Linked DNA regions of Homo sapiens: region 2 is linked to region 1. Evidence: fine-mapped expression QTL. Tissue or cell type: whole blood. Region 1 holds a variant in brackets; the other region holds the start of a gene. All regions are shown on one strand. Distances are between the middles of the regions. Region 1 overlaps PMP22 (peripheral myelin protein 22). Region 2 holds the start of PMP22 (peripheral myelin protein 22).

Evidence for each region. PIP is the estimated chance that this variant, and not a neighbour inherited with it, causes the effect.
Region 2: PMP22 starts here. The variant in region 1 is fine-mapped to the expression of PMP22 in whole blood (INTERVAL, PIP 0.97).

What each region holds. Positions count from the first base shown.
Region 1 is chr17:15,242,082-15,245,127 of GRCh38, reverse strand. All of the region lies in intron 3 of PMP22 (peripheral myelin protein 22), which reads left to right. Among named protein-coding and RNA genes, the nearest start is that of MIR4731, 8.1 kb to the left of the region's middle. The variant A/G (reference allele first, on the strand shown) is at 1,318.
Region 2 is chr17:15,263,708-15,266,442 of GRCh38, reverse strand. It overlaps PMP22 (peripheral myelin protein 22), which reads left to right and starts at 1,117. Exons shown (of 5, transcript NM_000304.4): 1 at 1,117-1,289. LOC124903931 (a long non-coding RNA gene) reads right to left here. Exons shown (of 2, transcript XR_007065632.1): 2 at 534-987.

The DNA of each region.
Region 1 (3,046 bases):
CTTTCTCCTGGGCTGGGCTCTGTTTTTTTTCCTCTCGCTGTCCTTGTGTAGCTTTTGATCAATGGCACTGGAGGAAAGGAAAATCCCTTGTTGTTTTCCTGGGCATGTGGAAGCCCAGTCCTGCCCAGAATTCCACTAGCCCTTTGAGTTTTGGAATCCTGACTCTTAGTAAGTCAATAGAGTGCTGCATCTGTTTTTACCTTTGTAATCTTTTAAATTGGTTTTAATTATTTAAGTAATACAAGTATTATAATACATGAAAATATCCTCAACTGAAAGGCTTCTTGACCAAACTCTTCTTCGTTGCAACAGTAGTTCCTGGGGGAACCCACTGACATCAATTTGACACAACTTTGGCTCTTTCTCTACGAATATTTGCATGCCTGTGGATGTCTATACGCAATTACATAGTTTTTTGGTGTTTGTTTTCATAATGATGACATGTTGTGTGTGCACCTTACTCTTTTCATTGTCTTGGAGACCTTTCAAAGACTCTTCATTTTCTAACTCATGATTTTTTTAACTGCTGCAAAATATTTCATTGTGAGGATATACCATAATTTATTTTCCCTCATAGAAATGCTACAATCAATGTCCTTATTTATTTTCCTCTGAGTATATGTTCACTGTTTTTCCAGGATATAGTAGATAAGCACTTGAACACATATAGTGTCATTACGCTAGAGGTGTTACAATTTTTAAACTACTTTTAATGGCAAAAATTACAATTACTTTTGTATCAACCTAATATATTCTGCCACAAAATGGCTGGTCACAAAAGGATTATAATAATAATATTATTATTATTCCTGTGAATGGTGTCTGCAGGTAGCTATCACTTATTTGTTCTGCTGATATTATCCATTTTTTTTGAATTTTGCCTATTGGCTGGATGAAAATTGGTGTCACCCTCCTCATGGGTTTCTCTTGCATTTCCTTGGTTGCTAGTGAGGTTGGGCACCTTTTACGATGTTTATTGGCTGTTCATATTTCTCCTTTGCTAATCACATGGCTTTTCAATTTTATACTTAGCTGTTTTCTCTTTGTTCTGTCTGTAATTTAATTTTGTTAATGATGCGAACTAGAGATTTAATTTTATGTTTTACCAAATGAATAGCCAACACTATGTATTGTCTGTTGTATTTTTCCCCACTGGTTTATATGATGTTGTGTATTATCTACCAAATTTACATGTATGCTTCCAAAGTCTTATTCCATCCCATTCTTTTATTTTTCTTTCATGATTAACACCATATTTTTGAATTGCTAAAACTTTATAATATAAATATAAGCTTTGTATGTCTATAAATAAAATAC[A/G]TTTTATTAATTATAATTATATGTTATATAATTATAATATAAGCACTTGAACATATATACTTCTATAATTATATATTATATAATTATATATCATACTTCTATGATATGTTCTATAATTATATATTGTATATATCATAGTTCTATGATATGTTCTATAATTATATATTATAAAGTTACAATTAATTGTATATTTAATTTATACCATATACTGTAATAAGCAAAATATAGAAATATGTTTTAAATCTGGTAGGTGGTATCTTGACTCATTGGTTTTATATGTTTTTCTGATTTTCTTTTTGTTCATTTGTTCGTTTTGGTTTTTAGTTGCTGTTGTGTTTACTTCAAATTTTTTCTTATCTGTCATTGCTCATTGTTTTTTAGATGAATTTTTAATTGATTTTTTTCCAGTTCCAGTTGCAATATGGATTAGGACAGCATTGAATTTGTAGATTATTTTGGATGAAATTGGCATCTTTATAACTTTGAGTGTTTCTATCCAGGAACTTAGTATGTTTCTTTAGTACTTCTTTTATGTACTTGAATAAAATTTGTCTAACTTGTTGATGTATCCCCAAAGAACCAGACATTTTTATTAAATGTATTTTAATATTTTTTTCTGTCTCATTAGTCTGTGCTTTTATCCATATTAAGTCAATTAATTTTTGGACTTATTTCATTGTTTTTTTTCTGGCTTCTTGAGTTGAAAGTGTAGTTCACTCTTTTTAAGGATTTTTCTAGCAAATGCTTAGAAGTGTATACATTGTCCTCTGAGAACTGCTTTGGTTACAACCCACAGGTGTGCCATGTGGCTCTCTATATAATTCCTTGCTGAAGAAGTTTTTACTTTTCATCTTGTTTTTTTTAATCCGAGGAATTATCTGGAACACTGTTTTTAAATTTCCAAATTTATTTTGGCTAGTTTGTTTTTAATGTCTAATTTCTGTTTGCCTTTAGGTATATGTTGAGCCTACATCATTTCTGCTTCTATATTTATTGAGATATTCTTTGTTGCCCTTATAGTCAGTTTGAAAAGCTGTCCCATGTGTGTTTGAAAATAACTTTGCTATATAGACACAAGTTTTCTATACATCTATTAGGACAGATTTGTTAATCCTCTTATGTAATCTATATTCTTTCTTCTTTTTGGTCTACCTGACATCTATTTTGAGGAAGGAAGCTAAAGTCTTCTACTGTTATTGTGATTTTAACAATTTCTTCTCATATTTTGATTACTTTTTGATTTTAACTTTTTCAGGCCATGTTATTATATGCATAATGATTTATTTTCTTCAGTCATAGATCATGTAAACCAGAAGTAAAGATCAAATAAACCAAATCTTTCCTCTATGAAACAACCAAACAACTCTCTGGCCACTTTTATCCTTTCAACATAAGTTCTATTTTTTATTATTAATTTATCTTCTTTCTTTTTTGTTAACATTTGCCTGAAGCTTCTTTTCAGAATCTTTTTTGTTTTTGACTGTTGCTTGTTTTAGGTGTATCTATTATATTAGAATATAGCTACAATGTCTCTCTTTTTTTTTTTTTTTTTTTTTTTTGAGACAGAGTCTCTCTCTGTGCCCAGGCTGGAGTGCAGTGGTGTGATCTTGGCTCACTACAACCTCCACCTCCTGAGTTCAAGCGATTCTCTGCCTCAACCTCCCAAGTAGCTGGGACTATAGGTGTCCACCAGCACACCTGGCCAATTTTTTTGTATTTTTCGTAGAGA
Region 2 (2,735 bases), 21 kb before region 1:
AATGATTTCAGCAAAGAGAGAAAGGTGAAACTATTTTATTGGCACTGGCTGTGATGCTGGCTGTGAGCAGATGCTGGCTGTGGGCAGAACAGGGGAGAGGGCCATTGAGAGGCCCTTGTGACTGGAGAGTCCAATCAAACGTAAAGTGTGTGACAGGGAGGGACTCCTCCAAATTCTGCAGGTCTCTCCAGACTGGGGATCCCTAACACAAGAGGAAGTCTTATGCCCCAAGTGCCAGAATTCCAGGAAACTCATGCAATGAAACCAGTCCTCTTGTGTCAGAGTTTGCAGCTAGAAGCGGTTCAAGGGATGGAGGACTCTCTGGGAGCTGGAGTGGTACGCTGCAAAGAACCTAAATATGCCATAACTTCCTTTACTTCCCTCTCCAAGAATTTCCAATTGCTCTTCCAGCCTATTCTGCCTGACAGGTTAGAAAGTTTTCAATAGTTTTCAATAGAGGTTCGTTTACTTGCATTGAATTATCTCATGAAGGTCAGCTTGATTCGGGCACATTAAAGACAGAGTCGGAAGAACACATTTCCCTAAGTTTTATTCTAATGTACAACACATGTGATCATTTGCGATGGGGTCTAGGCAGACAAGGCAGGTAACAGGGAGTCCTTCCAACCAGGGGTTGGAACAAAGGAGGCTTGATTTGGTGACTCTTGAGACATTTGGCTCACTGCTGTGATGCTGTGAGAGATTAGCTGTGCAATGTTTGGGCTCCTTAAAAGGAAGTTTATTTAAAATAAAACTTACCTGCACGTATGTAACACTGTAGACACAGATCCTTCCCACAGTATATTTAATCTCTGCAGAATTCACTGGGAGGGGAGGGGAGCCAGTGGGACCTCTTGGCTATTACACAGGTTGGCACTTCCAGAGAGAACAGTCTTGGCATCACAGGCTTCAGGCATACTCAAAGCTCTTCTCCCTTCTGATTCCAGTTTCTCCATGCCCTGCAGGGCCTCTTGGGATTATTGTATTCTGGAAAGCAAACAAAGTTGGACACTGTCTCTTTAAATAATAGAGGCTGAGAACCTCTCAGGCCACCATGACATATCCCAGCATTGGACCAGCCCCTGAATAAACTGGAAAGACGCCTGGTCTGGCTTCAGTTACAGGGAGCACCACCAGGGAACATCTCGGGGAGCCTGGTTGGAAGCTGCAGGCTTAGTCTGTCGGCTGCGGGTCTCTGACTGCCCTGTGGGGAGGGTCTTGCCTTAACATCCCTTGCATTTGGCTGCAAAGAAATCTGCTTGGAAGAAGGGGTTACGCTGTTTGGCCGGGTGAGTTTTATTGGCAAACTGTGCCTCTGGGTGATGTGTGCCTATGCTTTACAAGAATTGCCTAATTTCCCACCCCCTGCAAGCCGCAAATGAAAAGGATTGCAGGAGAGATGGTGCATTTGTGTTGGAATTGACTGGAGATTCAGAGGGCTTTTTATATCCTTGGTTAAAAGGTGGATATATACTCTGGCTGGGGAGGTGGGGGGCCATCTGAGAGCATCTAGAAACCCTAATGCATCCAGATTGAAAGGAAGAAAGGAATCTAGATGCTTTTTCCCCCATGGAAAATAGCTGTGCACACACAGCTGGCAGGTGGCCTTGGTAAGCAGGTTAGGGAGAAGCTGCCACCTGTGGCAGAGCCTTGGCCAGCCGGGCTCTGGGTGTGGCAAGCCTGGTCAGCAGGCACTGAGTAGCACTTCCTCTGCCACCATTGAGAACCAGGCAGGAGGCCAGAGGCAGTGAGGGACAGATGGGTTGGGTTTACCTGTCTGGCAGTATATGGTGTGGCTGTGACCTGGGTGGTTATTGATTAAACTATTGGGTTCAAAAGAAAGGAAGAAGCGAGCTGTAGCACCCAATATATGCACTTTTCTGTATGTGTATTAGACTTTATTAAAAAGTTTATTTGAAAATCACAAAGGAAGGGAAAGAAAACCCTGAGTTAGATATGCTCATATTTCTAAAGTGCTTACTTAGAACAGTCCTGAGTATGTTGTGATCACATAAGTGTTGGTTAAATAAATAAATGTCCAAATGGCATAAAACAAAGTAATAATTTCTAGAGCAAATCTAACTTATAAAATGACCTGTGGAGGAAAGAAAACACTGCCATGTCTTTAGACTTTTTTTTCTACTTGCATATGCACTTTCATTTATAAATCTTTATCTATCTATCTATATCTATCTATCTATCTATCTATCTACCTACCTACCTACCTACCTATCAGAGTTACAAGCTACTTTAGTGCAGAGGTGGTCAGGTCTTCCCTGAAAGGTTGATGTGAGAGTTAAATGTGATATAATAATAGTGGTGGCAATTTGGGCACTGGGCCCTTATTATGTTGCAGACACGATGTTAACTGCTTTGTACATATTGTCTCCTTCAATCACCACCATAAACCTTTAAAGCAGGCATTACTATTTCCTTTTGCACCTGAGAAAACTGAAGCTCAGTGAACTTGAGAAATTGCCCAAATTCACAACAAAAGTAAGCAGGGTGATTAGGTTTGTTGGAGCCCAGAGCCAGAGTGCCTAACCACTGCACCATACTGCCTCTCACAGACCATGCATATAAAGTCCAGGCAAAGTGCTTGGCATATAACGGGCACTGTAAATGCAGTGTTTACAAGTACACTTCATTTTAATCTGATAACACGATAGTTTTAAAAAGATCATTGTTTGAAGATCTTTTTCAAATTTATTTTTACTTACCGTAAGAATATACAA